3 separate regions of the Homo sapiens genome follow, and regions 1 and 3 are each linked to region 2. Evidence: fine-mapped expression QTL. A gene starts in region 2. Each other region holds a variant in brackets. All regions are shown on one strand. Distances are between the middles of the regions.

Evidence for each region. PIP is the estimated chance that this variant, and not a neighbour inherited with it, causes the effect. A credible set is the group of variants that fine-mapping cannot tell apart.
Region 1: its variant is the best candidate, but not a certain one, in a credible set for the expression of RPGRIP1 in whole blood (INTERVAL, PIP 0.56).
Region 3: its variant is the best candidate, but not a certain one, in a credible set for the expression of RPGRIP1 in whole blood (INTERVAL, PIP 0.58).

Annotation. Positions count from the first base shown.
Region 1 is chr14:21,315,893-21,320,892 of GRCh38, reverse strand. RPGRIP1 (RPGR interacting protein 1) reads right to left here. Exons shown (of 25, transcript NM_020366.4): 11 at 3,043-3,197; 12 at 716-876. Among named protein-coding and RNA genes, the nearest start is that of RPGRIP1, 38 kb to the right of the region's middle. The variant G/C (reference allele first, on the strand shown) is at 2,428.
Region 2 is chr14:21,274,362-21,285,537 of GRCh38, reverse strand. RPGRIP1 (RPGR interacting protein 1) reads right to left here and starts at 5,455. Exons shown (of 25, transcript NM_020366.4): 1 at 5,379-5,455.
Region 3 is chr14:21,308,646-21,313,645 of GRCh38, reverse strand. It overlaps RPGRIP1 (RPGR interacting protein 1), which reads right to left. Exons shown (of 25, transcript NM_020366.4): 8 at 3,039-3,062; 9 at 1,676-1,822; 10 at 1,140-1,213. Among named protein-coding and RNA genes, the nearest start is that of RPGRIP1, 31 kb to the right of the region's middle. RefSeq lists enhancers at 4,253-4,412, 4,235-4,762. The variant A/G (reference allele first, on the strand shown) is at 3,013.

The DNA.
Region 1 (5,000 bases), 38 kb before region 2:
ACAGTGGCACGTGCCTGTAATCCCAGCACTTTGGGAGGCTGAGTTGGGCGGATCACCAGAGGTCAGGAGTTCGAGACCAGCCTGGCCAAAATGGCGAAACCCTGTCTCTACTAAAAATACAAAAAATTAGCCGGCTGTGGTGGCAAGCACCTGTAATCCCAGCTACTCGGGAGGCTGAGGAAGGAGAATTGCTTAAACCTGGGAGGCAAAGACTGTAGTGAGCCGAGATCGCGCCATTGCACTCCAGCCTGGGAAACAAGAGCAAAACTCCATCTCAAAAAAAAAAAAAAAAAAAAAGAGTGGGCCGGGCGCGGTGGCTTACGCCTGTAATCCCAGCACTTTGGGAGGCCGAGGTGGGCGGATCACGAGGTCAGGAGATCGAGACCATCCTGGCTAACACGGTGAAACCCCGTCTCTACTAAAAATACAAAAAAATTAACCGGGCGAGGTGGCGGGTGCCTGTAGTCCCAGCTACTCGGAAGGCTGAGGCAGGAGAACGGCGTGAACCCCAGGGGGCGGAGCCTGCAGTGAGCCGAGATCGCGCCACTGCACTCCAGCCTGGGCGACAGCGAGACTCTGTCTCAAAAAAAAAAAGAGTGTCCTCAGTCAGGACAAAATATTATTTAGTTAGTTTTCTAATCTCATCATCTTCCCTAGAGATATTTGCCAGAGATCTCTCTGCAGAGTGGACTAGTTTGTTTAAAGAGGCTCTTACCTCGATCTGAGTGTTCTCTTGCAATACAGCTGGGTGAGTGGCTGGTTCAGATTGCCTGTCAGGAGGTTGGGAAATTGTGGCTGCATTTTGGAGGAGCTCTACTTCCTGTTTATGCTTCTGAAGTATGTTGGTGACTTCAAGCTTCAGATCCTCATTTTGGGCTGGGGAAAAATAATCCAGAAATGTGAAATTCTGTAGTTATTTATCACCATGGTCAGAGTTGGATCAAGTGTGAATTTAATCTTCCCACTAAGGTTTAATTAATGTTATAAATTTGAGAAGCAATTCTCTATTATTTCTACAGAGGAGGACTCTAGCTTATTGACTCAGTAAACTGAGGTGATACTACTTGCACTCCGAAAACAAAAGACACCTGCAGAATGGTAGAGTGGAAAGTGGAATAACAATAACAACACAAAACAGAAAGGGAATCACTTGACTAGGGTAATCCAAACTTTTTGACAGCAGCATCGAAACCAGTATCTCACCAACTCCACCCCCACTCCATTCTGACTTCTAGGTTACTAGCTCTCTGTGGCACCCATCTTCACACCCACCCTGGCCTGGATGGAGGATGGGCATTTCTGTGTTCCAATGTGTGTGTGTGTGTTTTTCTCTTTAGACAGTCTTACTCCATCACTCAGGATGGAGTGCAGTGGTGCGATCTTGGCTCCCTGCAACCTATGCCTCCAGGGTTCAACGATTCTTGTGCCTCAGCCTCCTGAGTAGCTGGTATTACAGGCGCACGACACTACGACTGGCTAATTTTCGTGTTTTTAGTAAAGATGGGGTTTCACCATGTTGGCCAGGCTGGTCTGAAACTCCTGGCCTCATGTGATCTGCTGGCCTCGGCCTCCCAATGTGCTGGGATTACAGGCATGAGCCACCACACCAGGCTGTGTGTGTGTTTTTCAGGGAATAAAGGTAATCGGTGTTTAGTGAGCAGATCATTTCCATCATGCATTAGAGAAGGGATTAAATTAGATTGCCCTGAAGGTCCTTACAAGACTTCATTTGTGCTTCAAACATACTAATTGGCATGTGCTCCTAAACATGGTTCTTGCCTCTATTTTTCTTGATTTCACACATTTCTTTTCCTTCCGTTCCCTATTTGAATACACTAAAACTTGATGAGATATAAATTTGATAAAACTAAATATTAAGGTCCAGGCTAGGAAAAAGTAGTAAGATGAAGGTCTTTTTGACAGTATTTAAAAATGTTCCAAATACCTATCTCCTGAGATCCAAGAGTTAAGACGGGGGTGAACTGGCAGTGGTAACCAAGAATAGTAATTTGCTACTCAATTTCAAGAATTGGATGGCAAAAAAAAAAAAAAGTATTCCAGTTACCTCTAAAATGATGAGAAGGATAAAAGACAAAGAAATTCACTTTCAATACTTTCAGCCAGGTGTAGTGGCTTTCACCTGTAATCCCAGCACTTTGGGAGGCTGAGGCGGGTGGATCACTTGAGGTTAGTTTCAGACCAGCCTGGCCAACATAGTGAACCCTCGTCTCTACTAAAATATACAAAAAATTAGTTGGGTGTGGTGGTGGGCACCTGCAATCCCAGCAACTCGGGAGGCTGAGGCAGGAGAATCTCTTGAACCTGGGAGGCAGAGGTTGAAGTGAGCCCAGATCGCATCACTGTACTCCAGCCTGGGTGACAGAGTGAGACTCTCTCAGAAACAAAACCAAACCAAACCAAACAAAA[G/C]AAAACTTTCAATAAACTGAACGTTTAAAAAACATAATAAATTAAAAACTGGCAGGTCGGGCACAGTGGCGCACGCCTGTAATCCCAGCACTTTGGGAAGCTGAGGCTGGTGGATCATCTGAGGTCAGGAGTTCACGACCAGCCTAACTAACATGGTAAAACCCCATCTCTACTAAATACAAAAAAAAAAAAATAGCCAGGCGTGGTAGTGCATGCTTGTAATCCGAGCTACTTGGGAGGCTGAGATAGGAGAATCGCTTGTACCTGGGAGGTGAAGGTTGCAGTGAGCTGAAATCGTGCCATTGCACTCGAGCCTGAGCAACAAGAGCGAAACTCCACCTCAAAAACAAACAAACAAACAAACAAACAAAAACTAGCATCTTCTCAAATGGAAAGACATTATATAGGAAAAAGTATACATGAGAGGTAGGTAAGTGTCATGTTTTCCTGATTGTAGATCTGATCTATTGCTAGTGTTCTCATTCTAGTTACCTACAACCCACAAAAGAATAGGATCAAGTGAGGGGATTAAAGAAATGATGGCTCAAGTTATCTTCTCCCAAACCAGAGGTAGAGGATGCCACATTTGAGAGAGCTCTTCAAGGTCCAGCCTACCTTTCTCCCTGGACAGCTCAAGTAAAACTTTTCTCTTGTCCTCCAGCTCAGCATCCAGCTGATCCTGCAGCTGAGAGACTTGCTGCTGTAGCTGTTCCGCTATGAGCTCGTTGCTCCAGTGGGGCTGACTGGAGCTGTCACTGCTGTCCAGCATGCTGGCAATGGAAAGCAAGCTCTCAGATGGATACCCCAAGGGGTGTGATATGACGTCTTTATTATCCAGTTTCAGCATCTCCTGGACCTAGTTCCTCATTCTCTCCCCTACATGTTTTTTTCTGCCCTTGCTTTATTCATAACTGTCATTTACCAACTGCCTTGGAACTTTTGAGTCCTACTGAGTTATTGCTCAGTACCATTTCTGTTTAGGTCTCAGATATCTGACTGAGCAAACACCCCAAGTCATATCCATTTCCCAAGGAACTTCTCCACCATGATGGCTTTCTTTAGTCAGGGAACTATGTATCAAGACCTTCTCAGGCCTGCCGGATTAGAAATGAGGAACAAAATCTTCCTTTTCTCAAACCCCATGCCTCCATCTACCTTCACCAACGGTGAGTTTAGAGAATATTTGTCTTTGACCTAGATTATAAATTACTATGCTGAAGGGCGGGAATTAAACTTTTCAACAACTGTATCCTCCACCCTATTGTATCAAGCTGTCAGAGCAGACCCATTTTGAGTATAAAATACACATGGCTGGTTCCTTTTTTTTTCTTTTTTCTTTTTTTTTTGAGACAGAATCTCGAGCTGTCACCCAGGTTGGAGTGCAGGGGTGCAATCTTGGCTCACTGCAACCTCTGCCTCCCAGGTTCAAGCGATTCTCCTGCCTCAGCCTCCTGAGTAGCTGGGATTAAAGTAACCCACCACCAGGCCCAGCTAATTTTTGTATTTTTAATAGAGACGGGGTTTTACAATGTTGGCTGTGCTGGTCTTGAACTCCTGACCTCAGGTGATCCACCTGCCTCGGCCTCCCAAAGTGTTGGGATTATAGGTGTGAGCCACCATGCCCAGCCACATGGCTAGTTCTTGGTCATTCATACAAATGAAATGACACTAATAATCAAACAATTATTTCTTTTTATGTCTTATTTCTTATTTATCATTTTAGTAAATGTGGTTTAAAAATAATTTACCAGGCTGGGCACAGTGGCTCACGCCTGCAATCGCAACACTTTGGGAGGCCGAGGAGGGCAGATCATGAGGTCAGGACTTCGAGACCAGCCTGGCCAACATAGTGAAACCCTGTCTCTACTGAAAATACAAAAAGTTAGCTGGGTGTGGTGGCAGGTGCCTGTAATCCTAGCTACTTGGGAGGCTGAGGCTGGAGAATTGCTTGAACCCAGCAGGCGGACACTGCAGCGAGCTGAGATCGTGCCACTGCACACCAGCCCAGGTAACAGTGTGAGATTCCGTCTCAAGAAATAAATAAATAACTTACCGGCCAGGCTGGATGGTTCCCACCTGTAATCCCAGCACTTTGGGAGGTCAAGGTGGGCAGATTATCTGAGGTCAGGGGTTCGAGGCCAGCCTGGCCAACATGGTGAAACCCCATCTCCATTAAAAATACAAAAATTGGCTGGGCGCGGTGGCTCACACCTGTAATTCCAGTGCTTTGGGAGGCTGAGGCAGGCAGATCTCGAGGTCAGGAGTTGGTGATCAGCCTGCCCAACATGGTGAAACCCCGTCTCTACTAAAAATACAAAAAATTAACCAGGTGTGGTGGCCGGCACCTATAATCCCAGCTACTCAGGAGGCTGAGGCAGAAGAATAGCTTAAACATCGGGAGGCAGGGGTTGCAGTGAGCCGAGACTGCGCCACTGCACTCTCAGCCTGGGCAACAGAGTGAGACTTTGTCTCAAAAAAAAAAAAAAAAAAACCACAAAAATTAGCCAGGCATGGTGGCACACACCTGTGGTCACGGCTACTTGGGAGGCTGAGGAAGGAGAATCACTTGAACC
Region 2 (11,176 bases):
CACCTCCCGAGTTCAAGTGATTCTCCTGCCTCAGCCTCCTGAGTAGCTCGGACTACAGGCACGTGCCACCATGCCCGGCTAATTTTTTGTGTTTTTAGTAGAGACGGGGTCTCACCATGTTAGCCAAGATGGTCTTGATCTCCTGATCTTGTGATCTGCCTGCCTTGGCCTCCCAAAGTGCTGGGATTACAGGCTTGAGCCACTGCACCTGGCCTCCTTCTTGCTCTTTATTTGGCTGACTCCATCTGATCCTTTGGTCTCTCAAGCATCTTTTCATTTGCCAGGAGGCCTTTCTCTGACTTTGGTAGCTGAACTGAGCACTTCCCCTTCTCTTACCAGTCTTATACTCTGTCACCTCACCCTGTTTATTTCCCTTGTGACATTTACTATACACAGAAACTACCTTCATTTATTTATACTAGTTTATTGTCTGTCCCCTCTCACTAAAACATAGTGACTTTGAAGGCAGAAAAATGGTTTATCTTGTTTACCTCTATAGATGCAGTACCCGAACAGTTATTGGCACATAGCAGGTACTCAACAAATAAACACCGAATGTATGAAAAGTAGAATGAACGAACAAGAGAGAGAATGACACTGAGGGACTGAAGTGAGTCAAAAAGTTCTTAAAGCATTCTGTTCTTGATTCCAGTCTTTTCCAGTTTTGTCTCCAAAATTTATGTCTCAGCTGGGAGCAGTGGTTCACGCCTGTATTCGCAGTACTTTGGGAGGCTGAGGCGGGCAAATCATCTGAGGTCAGGAGTTCAAGACCAGCTTGGCCAACATGGTGAAACCCTGTCTCTACTAAACATACAAAAATTTGCTGGGCGCGGTGACATGTGCCACGACAGAGTGATCCCAGTTACTCAGGAGTCTAAAGCAGGAGAATAGTTTGAACCCGGGAGGCGGAGGATGCAGTGAGCAGAGATCGTGCCACTGTACTCCAGCCTGGGTGACAAGAGAGAGATTCCATCTTCAAAAAAAAAAAAAAAAAAAATTTAGTTCTCCAGCCTTGACTTTCAGATTTGTACAAATTCTTTTTAAACATTTCCCCTTTCAAATGTTTCCCCTAGTAAACATACTAGACAACTGAAACTCACCTTTCCCAAAGAGGAATTGTAATTTCTCTTACCAGTCTGATTGTTTCCCAGTCTTTCCCTATTTCCATAAATGCCACTGTCTGGCTCTGTTCCTACCTTTAGGTTCTATAGTAGAGTCTTGTGCCCTATACAACAAATTCTCCCTTTTTGTTGAAGCTAGCTTGACTTGTCAACTGGAGAAGGGTGTTCAGAAGCTTATTTTGAACAAACAGAGAAATATAAAGAAGAAAGCAAAAAGTATAATGGAGAAATTCTATCACCTAGAGAAAATGTAAACATTGTATTGATCTGCTTTCCGGGCAATTTAACTTGAATTGGATAATTCATACTCTGTTCTGTAACATTTCATTTTTAAAAATCACAATAAATGGAGAGCATCTTTCCAATGTCATAGTCTTAAATAGATCTATACAGATTTCATAGCATGCCTATTTTAAGAAAGCTGAATAATCACCCCAAAGTTTAAGTACTTTCGCATGTTAGACCTAGGATTACAAGTAAATCTCAGGCCAGGCACGGTGGCTCACGTTTATAATCCCAACACTTTGGGAGGCTGAGGCGGATGGATCACCTGCGGCCAGGAGTTCGAGACTAGCCCAGCCACATGACAAAAGTTAGCTGGGCATGGTGACAGGCGCCTGTAATCCGGCTACTCGGGAGGCTGAGGCAGGAGAATCGCTTCAACCCGGCAGGTGGAGATTGCAGTGAGCCAAGATCGTGCCACTGCACTCCACTCCAGCCTGGGCAAAGCAGAGTGAGACTCTGTCTAAAAAAAAAAAAAAAGTAAATCTGCATTTAGTTTACAAGTAAATCTCCATTTGAAGTACCATATATAGGGGCTGGGCACAGTGGCTCATGCCTGTAATCCCAGCACTTTGGGAGGCCGAGGCGGGCAGATCACAAGGTCAGGAGTTTGAGACCAGCCTGGCTAACATGGCGAAACCCCATTTCTACTAAAAATACAAAAATTAGCTGGGTGTAGTGGCTCATGCCTGTAGTCCCAGCTGCTCTGGAGGCTGAAGCAGGAGAATCGCTTGAGCACAGGAGGCGGAGATTGCAGTGAGCCAAGATTACACCATTGCACTCCAGCCTGGGCGACAGTGTGAGACAGCTTCTCAAAAAATAATAATAATAAATAAAATAAATAGAGTAGCATCTACAGGTTTACTTAGTCACCCACCTTCCTAGTTTCCTACTGTAGAAAAGTAATGTGAAGGAAAAGGAAAGGTGACTGCATCATAAGCTTGGTCCTCTGGACCTGAAGCCATTTGCAAAAATGGAGCTGTAGTAGAAGGGATGCTGTTGTTCTTAATATCTGGGCCCAGAGCACATTGACGCACCACCAATGCTATATGGCACTATGGAGCAATTGAAAAGTATCATTAAAACTGAAGTCACAGAAGCTCTAAGAATGAAATGGAGTTTATTGGAATGCTAGAGAAGAAAAGCCAGTTGAGACTGTCAGTGAAGGCGTGTTGAACATCCAGTGGCCAGATTTAATTTCTCAGGAATGAAAAAGTGGAATGTAGGCCGGGCACAGTGGCTCACGCCTGTAATCCCAGCACTTTGGGAGGCCGAGATGGGTGGATCACAAGGTCAGGAGATCAAGACTATCCTGGCTAACGTGGTGAAACTCCATCTCTACTACAAAATACAAAAAATTAGCCGGGTGTGGTGGCACGCGCCTGTAGTCCCAGCTACTGGGGAGGCTGAGGCAGGAGAATGGCGTGAACCTGGGAGGCGGAGCTTGCTGTGAGCCGAGATCACGCCACTGCACTCCAGCCTGGGAGACAGAGCGAGACTCTGTCTCAAAAAAAAAAAAAAAAAAAAAATGGAATGTAGATTCTAAAAGGGTTTATCAATTGTTTTGAACTCAACAGGATGAAAGACTGAAGAAACTTCCACCCGGCGTGGTGGCTCACGCCTGTAATCCCAGCACTATGGGAGGCTGAGGCGGGCTGATCATGAGGTCAGGAGATCGAGACCATCCTGGTCAACATAGTGAAACCCCGTCTCTACTAAAATACAAAAAAATTAGCCAGGCATGGTGGTGCGTGCCTGTAGTCCCAGGTACTCAGGAGGCTGAGGCAGGGGAATTGCTTGAACCTGGGAGGCAGAGATTGCAGTGAGGTGAGATCACGCCACTGCACTCCAGCCGGGTGACAGAGCAAGACTCCGTCTTAAAAAAAAAAAAATTTCCTTGCAGTGATATTCAGAATTGCAGTGCACTTGGACAAGTATAGGTTAGTGAGGGTGAAGAACCCTTTACTAGTGATAGATGGATAGACGTATAAAGCCAGCTTGATGACATCAGCAATTAAAATTTTCTTTTCCTCTTTTTTCGAGACAGAGTATCACATTGTTGCCTGGGCTGGAGTGCAATGTTGCAATCTCAGTTTACTGCAACCTCCGCTTCCCGGGTTCAAGCGATTCTCCTGTCTCAGCCTCCAGAGTAGCTGGGATTACAGGCACCTGCCACCATGCCCAGCTAATTTTTTGTATTTTTTAGTAGAGACAAGATTTCACAATTTTGGCCAGGCTGGTCTCGAACTCCGGACCTTGGGATCCGCCAGCCTCGGTCTCCCAACGTGCTGGGATTACAGGCATGAGCCACCCTGCCCAGACTTCTTTTTTTTCTTTTTTACACTCTGTATCACTGGGCAAGCATTTAAAATTTTGTAGCCAGTTCCCCTTACTCTGATTATTATTATTATTATTATTATTATTATTATTTATTTTTTTTTTTTTTGAGACAAGGTCTCACTCTGTTGCCCAGGCTGGAGTACAGCGGTATGCTCTCGCCTCACTGCAACCTCTGCCTCCAGGGTTCAAGCAATTCTCATGTCTCAGCCCCCCAGGCAGCTGCAATTACAGGCGCAAGCCGCCACGCCCAGCTAATTTTTCTATTCTTAGTAGAGACAGGGTTTTGCCATGTTGGCCAGACTGGTCTTGAACTCCTGATCTCAAGTGATCCACCCGCCTCAGCCTCCCAAAATGCTGAGATTACAGGTGTGAGCCAACACGCCTGGGCCAAGAGTAGATTTTTAAGTGTTCTCATCAAACACAAAAAATTGATGAGCATATGAGGTAATACATATTTTAATTAGCCCAAGATTGGGCAGGTGTGGTGGCTCACGCCCGTAATCCCAGCACTTTGGGAGGCCAAGGCGGGCAGATCACAAGATCAAGAGATCAAGACCATCCTGGCCGTGGCCAACATGGTAAAACCCTGTCTCTACTAAAAATGCAAAAATTAGCTGGGCATGGTGGTGCGCACCTGTAGTCCCAGCTACTCGGGAGGTTGAGGCAGGAGAATTGTTTGAACCCAGGAGGCAGAGGTTGCAGTGAGCCGAGATTGAGCCACTGCACTCCAGCCTCACGAGAGAGAGAGATTCTGTCTCAAAAAAAAAAAAAAGAAAAGCCCAAGGTAGCCATTTTCCACTCTCTCTATATATATATTTCAAAGCAACAAATTTTACACAATAAATATATACAATTTCAAATTGTCAATTAAAAATTAATTAATTTGAAAAGGAGTTTTATTCATTCTGCAGATAGTGGATACATTTCTGAGCAAAAGAGCAATATAATTAGAGCTATGGAAGAGCATTAGGAAGATTCATCTACTATTAGTGATTTGGAAATTGGGGAGAGAACAGTGTTAAGAGGATATTGCTATAGTTCAGGCAAGAAGTCTTGAACTAGGGAAGGAGGGGGGTGGGGGATGGAAGAATAGGATGGATCATGAAGACACTGAGGAAGGAGAATCAAAAGATGTGACAACTGGTTGGACGTGAGATAGAGTTAAGAGGGTGACAGGATTAAAGATGACTTGGTAATGTTGTGCTGGATGCCTGGGAGACTGGTGGTACAATAGAAAATGAATAAACCAGGCCAGGCGCGGTGGCTCATGCCAGTAATCCCAGCACTTTGGGAGGCCGAGGCGGGTGAATCACCTGAGGTCAGGAGTTCAAGACCAGCCTGGCAAACATGGTGAAACCCCGTCTCTACTAAAAACACAAAAATTAGCCGGGCAATGGTGGCGCATGCCTGTAGTCCCCAGCTACTTGGGAGGCTGAGGCAGGAGAATCGCTTGAACCTGGGAGGCAGAGGTTGCAGTGAGCAGAGATAGTGCCGGTGCACTCCAGCCTGGGCGACAGAGTAAGACTCTGTCTCAAAAAAAAAAAAAAAAAAAAGAATAAACTTATTTCATTCTTCTCAAAAACACCCCTAGGGAAGACATAGGAAACTATAAATATGCATCAGATAGAAACTTACAGTTCTTGCTTGCTCCAGATAGCTGTCGCTAATTCTTTTCTCTCAATGTTCTGGTGTCCTTTAGTACTCTAGGTTCCAATAAGCTTGTCCTTCTGGCTTGTTAAAAGAGGAGCTAATCCAGTTCTGTTTAGCTTTTAAGATGTTAACTCTTTGTAGATCAGAGTGTGTGAAGGCTGTGCTTTTTCTCTATGCATGTTTGACTTGGAGAAAGAGCAGCTTAAAGGGTCCTTAACAGATCCACTTCTCAACTAAAACTAAAGCTGAGAACACATTTGCGGGATTTGAGATTAAAAGAAATTTGTTGGTATTCAGAGGATGATCTTTAAATCTTTTATTTATTTATTTATTTATTTTGAGACAGAGTTTCACTCTTGTTGCCCAGGCTGGAGTGCAATGGCGCGATCTCGGCTCACCGCAACCTCTGCCTCCCAGGTTCAAGCAATTCTCCTGCCTCAGCCTCCCGAGTAGCTGGGATTACAGGCATGCACCACCACAGCCAGCTCACTTTGTATTTTTAGTAGAGATGGAGTTTCTCAATGTTGAGGCTGGTCTCGAACTCCTGACCTCAGGTGATCTGCCCGCCTTGGCCTCCCAAAGTGCTGGGATTACAGGCTTGAGCCACCGCGCCCGGCCGATATTCTTTAAATCTTTATCTGAAGGGCAACAACAGTGGGAGTTGTTCTGAAGCCCTGAGATCCCTTTGAAGAGAACAAACACTGCACCGTTGGTGGGATCAACATGCCTATTCAGTCCACATGTGCCAGTGCTTTCGAGTAAGAGAATGTATATCTTCCATTTCACCGTGACCACCGTTTTGAAACCAAACTTTGGGATGTAATTATGAAGCAATAGGATTTGATATAAGAAAATTAAATGTTCTTAAAAATTCTGCAAGGCTGGTCACTGCATTCATATTATATATTAAGTGGAATACGGTCTCAATTGTTACATAAAATCCTCTTTATTTATTTATTTATTTTGAGATGCAGTTTCGCTCTTGTTACCTAGGCAGGAGTGCAATGGTGCGATCTCGGCTCACTGCAACCTCTGCCTCCCGGGTTCAAGCAATTCTCCTGCCTCAGCCTCCTGAGTAGCTGGGATTACAGGCATGCGCCACCACGCCCAGCTAATTTTGTATTTTTACTAGAGACAAGGTTTCTCCATGTTGGTCAGGCTGGTCTCGAACTCCCGACCTCAGGTGATCCACCTACCTTGGCCTCCCAAAGTGCTGGGATTACAGGCCTGAGCCACCACGACTGGCCTAAATCCTCTCTTTAATGCACTGAATGGGTGCATTGAGAAAGCTCCATTCTGGTTATTGGCATGAGGTTCGGGGATTTCCAGGAGGATGAACACATAGTTAATGGGCCCCATGTGACTTCCTCTAAATCCCATGAAATAATAAAATAAAATAAAATAAAATAAAGCTAGGGAGACAATTAGGAAGTAGAGAAAGTATCCAGGACACATACATTTCCCAGTGAAGAGAGGAAAATTCAATATAATATTTTACCAGGTTTAAATGACAGATTTATAAAATTTAAAAGCTGGGCTTTTATGCACTTAAGGTTGCTTCTTGCCCAAGCTATTTCTTGATAAATCTGGGATTTTCTGTCCTTTTTTAAGATGCTCTAGCCAGAGACAGTGCAGGACAAAATTAATTTTGAAGTAAGCCAAGTTTGTGTTTGATAATCGTGTTCTCTTTTCTGAACCTCTGACTTTTGTTAATTTTTTTTTTTTTTTTTTTTTGAGACGGAGTTTTGCTCTTGTTGCCCAGGCTGGTGTGCAATGGCACAATCTTGGCTCACTGCAACCTCTGCCTCCCGGGTTCAAGAGATTCTCCTGCCTCAGTCTCCCTAGTGGCTGGGATTACAGGCACCCGCCACCACACCCAGCTAATTTTTTGTATTTTTAGTAGAGATGAGGTTTCACTATGTTGGCCTGGCTGGTCTTGACCTCCTGACCTCAGGTGATTCACCCGCCTTAGCCTCCCACAGTGCTGGTATTACAGGCGTGAGCCACCATTCCCGGCTGACTTTTGTTAATTTTTAAAACATCTCCTACCTCTTTCAGGCAACCAGTTTCCCTTAACATTCTCATTACATCTTGGAGTGAATTTACGTGATACTTTTTCCACTAGGCTTAATGTACTTCTCAATGTAGACAGTAAGACTTTGTTCTGTGTTAAAGAAATTTCAGGCCGGGCACGGTGGCTCACACCTGCAATCCCAGCACTTTGGGAGGCTGAGGTGGGTGGATCACCTGAGGTCAAGAATTCGAGACCAGCCTGACCAACATGGTGAAATCCCATCTCTACTAAAAATACAAACATTAGCTGGGCGTGGTGGCAGGCACCTGTAATCCCAGCTACTCACCAGGCTGAGGCAGTGAGAATCACTTGAACCCCAGAGGCGGAGGTTGCAGTGAGCCGAGACTGCACCATTGCACTCCAGCCTGGGCAACAAGAGCAAAACTCCATCTCAAAAAAAAACAAAAAGAAATTTCAGTCATTGGCCAGGCTTGGTGGCTCACACCTGTAATCCCAGAACTTTGGGAGGCCGAAGTGGGTGGATCACCTAAGGTCAGGAGTTTGAAACCAGCCTGGCCAACATGGTGAAACCCTGTCTCTACTAAAGATACAAAAACAATTAGCTGCGCGTGGTTGTGAGTGCCTGTAATCCCAGCTACTCTGGAGGCTGAAGCAGGAGAATCACTTGAACCGGGGAGGCGGAGGTTGCAGTGAGCCGAGATTGCGCCACTGCACTCCAGCCTGGGCGACAGAGCAGAACTCTGTCTCAAAAAAAAAAAAAAAAAACAGAAATTTCAGGTCAGGTGCTGTGGCTCATGCCTATAATCCCTGCACTTTGGGAGGCCGAGGTGGGCGAATCATGGAGGTGGAGGTTGCAGTGAACCGAGATCTTGCCACTGCACCCCAGCCTGGGCAACGAAGCGAGACTCCAGCTCAAAAAAAAAAAAAAAAAGTTAAAATACAAAGGTCCCCTGAGGCCTGGCATGGTGGCTCGCATCTGTAATCCTAGCACTTTGGGAGGTTAAGGCAGCCAATGACTTGAGGCCAGGAATTCAAGACCAGCCTGACCAACATGGCAGAATCTGTCTTACTAAAAATACAAAGAAATTAGCCAGACGTGGTGGCGCATACTTGTAATCCCAGCTATCCGGGAGGGTGAGGTGGGAAGATGGATTAGATCCGGGCAGTGGAGGGTGCGGTGAGCCGAGATGGCGCCACTGCAATCCAGCCTGGGCAACAGAGGGAGACCCTGTAAAAAAAAAAAAAAAAAAAAAAAGGCCAGGTGCGGTGGCTCACTCCTGTAATCCCAGCACTTTGGGAGGTTGAGGCGAGTGGACCATGATGTCAGGAGATTGAGACCATCCTGGCCAACATGGTGAAACCCCGTCTCTACTAAAAATACAAAAATTAGCTGGGCTTGGTGGTGCCTGCCTATAATCCCAGCTACTCAGGAGGCTGAGGAAGTAGATTAGCTTGCACCAGGGAGTCGGAGGTTGCAGTGTGTGGAGATGGCACCACTGCACTCCAGCCTGGCGACAGGGCAAGACTCCATCTCAAAAACAAAAGAAAAACCAAACAAGCCAGGTGCAGTGGCTCACTCCTGTAATCCCAACAGTTTGGGAGGCAGAGGCGGGTGGATCACTTGAGGTCAGGAGTTCGAGACCAGCCGGGACAACATGGCGAAAACCCGTCTCTACTGAAAATACAGGCCAGGCGCGGTGGCTCACGCCTGTAATCCCAGCACTTTGGGAGGCCGAGACGGGTGGATCACAAGGTCAGGAGATCCAGACCATCCTGGCTAACACCGTGAAACCCCGTCTCTACTAAAAATACAAAAAATTAGCCGGGCGCGGTGGCAGGCGCCTGTAGTCCCAGCTACTCGGGAGGCTGAGGCAGGAGAATGGCGTGAACCTGGGTGGTGGAGCTTGCAGTGAGCCGAGATCGCGCCACTGCACTCCAGCCTGGGCGACAGAGCGAGACTCCATCTCAAAAAAAAACAAAACAAAAATTAGCTGAGCGTGGTGGCGCACTCCTGTATTTCCAGCATCTGGAGGCTGAGGCAGGAGAATCACTTGAACCTGGGAGAGGGAGGCTGCAGTGAGCCCAGATCGCACCTCTGCACTCCAGCCTGGGCTACAGAGGGAGACTCCCTCTCAAAAAAAAAAAAAAAAAAAAAAAAAAGGAAAAGACCCTGCATAAATTTTATATTTGAAAATGTGGGCCAGATAGTTCACATAGTATTTTTATGCCATCTAGATTTGCTCAAGAGCTCAGTTTGTACCATAATAGTAAAATAAGCACTGACAATGAAATGTGACCTTTGTCAACTAAAAAAGCATTTTGTAAGTTGTACAAAGATTAGCTTAATGAAAAATTACCAGAGGATAAAATCCTGTGCTTCAGAGCCAGAATGAGAACAGATGGCAAATACGTTAAAGAAGGCTTAACCTACAGGAAGCCAGATTTAGGTCACTGCTGAGATGAAAATTAGCAGAGGAACAAAGAAGACAAAGGAAAAGTAGGAGAAAAACATTAAGTAGAAAGTGAAAAGAGAAATTGAAGAAACAAGAAAGAAATTAGAAGTTTATATGTTCCTTTTTTCAGAAATGAGGTCTCACTATGTTGTTCAGGCTGGAGTGCAGTGGCTGCTCACAGACACAATCATAGCATACTGCCAGGAACTCCGGGGGTCAAGGGATTCTCCTGCCTCAGCCTCCTGAGTGGCTGCGACTACAGGCACCCACTACCATGCCCCACTATTTTTCATTAAAAAAAAATATTTTGGCCGGGCGTGGTGGCTCACGCCTATAACCCCAGCACTTTGGGAGGCCGAGGTGGGCATACCACGAGGTCAGGAGTTTGAGACCGCTTGGCCAACATGGTGAAACCCCATCTCTACTAAAAATACAAAAATTAGCTGGGCATGATGGCACAAGCCTATAGTCCCAGCTACTTGGGAGGCTGAGGCAGGAGAATCGCTTGAACCTGGGAGGTGGAAGCTGCAGTGAGCCGAGATCGTGCCACTGCACTCCAGCCTGGCGACTGAGCGATACTCTGTCTCAAAAAAAAAAAAAAAAAAAATTTAAGAGATGTTGCCCAAGCTGGAGGATGTTTTTAAAATAAAGTCACTTATTTTCAAATATCTTCTGAAGGGGCTTGAAGTCTCTATTATATAGGTCTCATAGCACCTTCTTACTTATTTTCAGTAGCACTCACAATTTAGTATAAACAATTAATTGAGTAATTATCCATTTAATATTTGATTCTGTTCTGAAGGGCAGGGCCATGTCTGTTTTGTTTACTTCTATGCTCTTGTGGCATCAGCTAATTACATAGTACGTTTAACAAGTATTGTTGAGTGAATGGGTAGGATTTTCCCACCTTGGCATACATTACATTATTAATAATAGTGTAATGGTTATTTGCATATCCTCTAGAACTAGACCTCCTAGCATTAGAATCTTTTTTTTTTCTCTTTTTGAGACACGGTCTTGCTGCTGGTAGCTAAATCCTGGTCTCCAGGGATCCTCCTGCCTCAGCCTCCTGAGTAGCTGGGATTACAGGCTTCCGAGTGTCTAGCTATAGTGTCAGAATCTTGCACCACCAAAAACTAGTTGTGTGACCTTAGGCAAATTACTTAACCTTTCTGTGCTTTCATTTCTACATCTTTAAAATGGGGATAATAAAATTATCAAATGAGCTAATTCATGTGAAACACTTAGAAAAGTGCTTTACACATGGTATCTGCTCAGTAAATTTTTATTTTTAC
Region 3 (5,000 bases), 31 kb before region 2:
TGGCTAATTTTTGTATTTTTAGTAGACACAGGGCTTCATCATGTTGGTCAGGCTGGTCTCTAACTCCTGACCTCGTGATCTGGCCGCCTCGGCATCCCAAAGTGCTGGGATGACAGGCATGAGCCGCCGCGCCTGGCCATCTATCTCATTTTTAACAGCTGCATAGCACTTCATTGTGAGGATGCAACATGCTTTATGTGATCAATCTCTTATCAGTGGTTTCCTTTTTATTTGTTTATTTGTTTTTGTTTTTTTGCTATTACTATCAGGGCAGTAATTCACATTCTTTTTTTTTTTTTTCTTTTTGTGGAGAACAGGGTCTCACTATATTGCCCAGACAGGTCTCGAACTTCTAGGCGCAAGTTATCCTCCCACCTCTGCCTCCCTAAGTGTTAGGATTACAGGTGTGAGCTGCTGCACCCAGCAACATTCTTATTATATACATATATTTGCACATACACAAGAGAATTTTTTCATTTTGATTCCCCCCAGCCCCCCAAAAAATTTGGGGGCCAGACATGGTGGCTCGTGCCTGTAATCCCAGCATTTTAGGAGGCTGATGCAGGCAGATGACTTGAGCCCAGGAGTTTGAGACCAGCCTGGGCAACCTGACAAAACCCTGTCTCTACAAAAAAATAGAAAAAAATTAGCCAGGTGTGGCAGTGCACACCTGTAGTCCCAGCTACTGGGGAGGCTGAGGTGGGAGGATTGCTTGAGCCTGGGAGACTGGGGCTGCAGTAAGCCTAGAATGCCACTGTTTTCCAGCCTGGGTGACAGAGAGAAACTACATCTCAAAAAAAGAAAAAAGGAATTGCTGGTTAAAAAAATAAAAAGGAAGAAGAGTCAGGAGAATCGTTTGAACCCGGGAGGTAGAGGTTGCAGTGAGCCAAGATCGCACCACTGCACTCCAGCCTGGGCAGCAGAGCGAGACTCCATCTCAAAAAAAAAAAAAAGAGGATATGCACATTTAACATTTTAATAGTGTCAAATTCCCTTCCAAAAGACTGCCGATTAATATTCTCACTAACAATATTGAGTACCAATTTCCCCATATATTTATTAATGCTAGGTATTAGGAATGAACTTTCTATAATGTCTTTCATAGTAACACTGCTCTGGGACCCAAATGTGGTACTCACCTTTCTAAGAGTTTGTCATAATTGTCATTCAGCAATTTTCGTTCTTTTTCCAAATCTTCAACTCTCTCCTGAAACTAAGAGTGATAGTAGCCCTTGAGATAAAATGTTAAAATCTATTCCCCTGCACAGGATTTCCCCTGTCCATGGCAGGGAGGGGCGTGGGTGAGAGGCTTTCTATCACCATCTCCAGTGTCTGAGAAGCCATCCAACTAGAAAGACTTGAACCAATTGAAGGTCGGCTAGAAACTTGTATTGGGATTAATGAGGATTTTCCAAAATAAGTCTTCACTGTTTCTGGGTTTCTACTGCTAGGGAAGCAGCAAAACATTATGAAAGAGCAAGGACTTTGAAAAACAGACATAAGTACAAATCCAAGCTTTCCCTCTAATGGTGTAATCTTAAGCAAATGATTTAACTACTCGGAGCTTCGTTTTTGTCATTTGAAAAAATGCAATACTCATATTGTTGCTAAGATACACATTCTAACATCCCTGAAGTTGAAATGTAGATGGTATCTTTCAACTATTATTATTTACCTCCTTCAGAGTCATCTGCAAGATAGACACATCTTCCAGTTGGCTCTTCAAGCTCACAGCCTTCTTGCTTTCTTCCTTCAGCTCTGCCCTGAGCTCATTCACTTGCTTGAGGAGGGCCTCATGGGCTGCACTCAGGATTCCCTGATTCTGGGTCAAAAGGAAAGTACCTCTGGGAATGGTCATATCACTCAGCACGAGTGGTCTCCAGACACCAGCAACCCTAGCATTCTCTAACAGATGTCACAAAGAATGACTTTGATTAATAGCTTATTACCTTTGTACTGTTCGTTAACCTTGTTTTTCACCCTAGCATTTCTCTGGAAGTATAATTTCCCTGGTAGGTAGGGTTTCCATTCTGGGCAATTGTAGTTCATCATTTGAGCTTTAATTTTCTTTTCTTGTATTTATTTATTTATTTATTTATTGAGACAGTCTCGCTCTGTTGCCCAGGCTGGAGTGCAATAGTGCTTGGCTCACTGCAACCTCTGCCTACCGGGTTCAAGCAATTCTCCTGCCTCAGCCTCCTGAGTAGCTGGGATTACAGGCATGAGCCACCACGCCCAGCTAATTTTTGTATTTTTAATAGAGACAGGGTTTCTCCATGTTGGCCAGGCTGGTCTCGAACTCCTGACCTTAGGTCATCCACCCGCCTCCGCCTCCCCAAGTGCTGGGATTACAGGCGTGAGCCACCGCGCCTGGCCCTTGAGCCTTAATTTTCTCAAGGTTCAAATTAATCCCTAGCTTTAAATTAGTTGCCACCTTCCAAAGCTGCCTTCACTTTCTAAGCTATTTGACTGCTTTTTTATGATGACTACGTTTGTACCTAGACAAGTGACATGTTAACTCCAGAAGTTCTGTGTGTGTTTCTGGCGGACTCCTCTGGTGAGGCACAGCTGGGTGGTCTCGTTTGGAACTCTGTCTTAGTGGTGATTCTTAAGCACAGACATTCACCTAGCTTCACATGCAGCCCACTCACAGTGGTGAATAGGGCCAAATATTTAAGACCATCTGAGAATACCTGCAACAACTTTGTTATATCTCATCACCTCACACATGCTAGAAGAATACTCTTAGGAAGTTTTGAGCAAATGCTATAATTTGCTCCAGCAATAGGCTTAAAAATACCATGCCAAATATTTCTCAACTACAATTTCATATTTCAATTTTTATGAAAACAGTGCAATAAGTATCTGTATCTTTTGATAATCATAATAGTATCATTTTTAACAGAAACTATATGACATAATAACATTGATTTAGTTAGCTAAATTCTGGTGTTATGTTACTTGGAGATGAACATAGATTTCTTTGGGTTTGATTATTCTGGTTACTAAGAA[A/G]CAGAGACTCAATTCTCATTAAGTACCTTCTGGAGCAAGGTTTCGTATGCCTGGAAGAAAGAAATTATTATTATTTTATTGATTTATCAATTTCATGATATATTTATCACTGTAATATAATGCTTAACATTTTTAAAGACATTATAAAAATCCCACAAAACAAATCAATTTGTGTACTTGTTTACTAATTGTTGCTATTTTTCCCCTGCCCTAGCTTGCCAAGTAGTCTGTGACTGCAATCATTCACACCATTTCTCAAAAAAGAATGAAGGGTCATTTATTAACATTTGCATTGTACTTGGTGGATTATCCAAGAAAAATGTTTAATCTTAAATTAGGTACTGTTACTTAGCACACTTCAGAAAGATCTCTTCAGTTTTAGTAAAAAAAAAAGAATGATCATAACAACAGCTATAATTAGTTGAGTAGTTGCTATGTGTTACTATGTGTTTCATTACCTGCCACATCATGATCATTATAATCATTTCACACATATTATCTCATTTAATCCTTGTAGCAAATATGAGAGGTAAGTTTTCGTTTTTGTTTTTGAGACAGTCTCACTCTGTTGCCCAGGCTGGAGTGCTGCGGCACAATCTTGGCTCACTGCAACCTCGGCTTCCCAGGTTCAAGCAATTCTCCTTCCTCAACCTCCCAAGTAGCTGAGATTACAGGTGCCCCCCACCACACCTAATTTTTGTATTTTAGTAGAGACGGGGTTTCACCATGTTGGCCAGGCTGGTCTCAAACTCCTGACCTCAAGCGATCCACCCACCTCAGCCTCCCAAACTTTTTTTTTAAATTTATTTTTTATTTTTTAAAAAAGGTCAAATAATCTTGAGAGAGAAAAAAATTGATCATATCAACTTGCTTAAAACCCTTTCACATAGCTCTCTGCTGTTTGTAGGATAAAGTCTAAATTCCTAGCATGTTCTGTCTTTAATGACAACGAGAAAAAAAATTCTTAGTGTGTCCTTCATGACCAGACCTGATGTTTCTCACCTCTGCTCTCATGGAAAGCCCCCTCTTCTCTTACACACTTATTAACACAAGCTAATCTTTTAGTATTTCAGTATTTAACTCACAAATCTATTCCTTTATTAATCCTTTTCTTTTTTCTTTTTTTGAGACAAAGTCTCACGCTGAGGTGCCGTATCGGGATCTCGGCTCACTGCAACCTCTGCCTCCTGGGCTCAAGCACTCAAGCAATCCTCCTGCCTCAGCCTCCATAGTAGCTAGGACTACAGGCACACATCACGATGCCTGTCTAATTTTTCTATTTTTGATAGAGATGGGGTTTCGCCATGTTGTCTGGGCTGGTCTCGAATTCCTGAGCTCAAGTGATCCTCCCTCCTTGACCTCCCAAAGTGCTGGGATTACAGGCTCCAGCCACCGCACCCAGTCATTAATCCTTTTCTGATCTGGCACTGTTAAAGGAGTTATTAAAAATAATTTTAGGCAGATAGAGAGGAAAAGGGGTCCTTGGAAAGTTTTCTCGTCCTTTAAAGCAGCTCCAGAAACGTTTTTTGTCTAGCAGGAAAGCCCTGGCTCTTACAGCCGGGAAGGCAACCTTTGATATGCAAATACAGGTCTTTAGAAACTGGGTCCACCCAAACATGGCGATTCCCGCCCTTGTCTTCCTGTCCTTTCCCCGACCTGTACCTGGCAACATGGCCACCCCCACATATCCCCACGTGTGTAGAACATCATGGCGCCCTTCATTTGCATATTAAAAGACTAGGGTAGGAGGGCCAGTTTTTTCCACAGGCTACATGAGTGACATGCCTGGTCAAACCAATCCCCTGAGCCCTATGCAAATCAGACACTACCTCCTCCTGCCTACTCATATAAGCAGCCACTTTTCCCGGCACATGAGGTCTCCCCTCTCTGCTTTGGAGTCCTTCTCCCTCTGTCTCAGTACAGGGGAGCTTCTTCCGTCTTTCTTCTCCCTTGTTTCTTGCCTATTAAACTCTCCGCTCCTTAAAGCC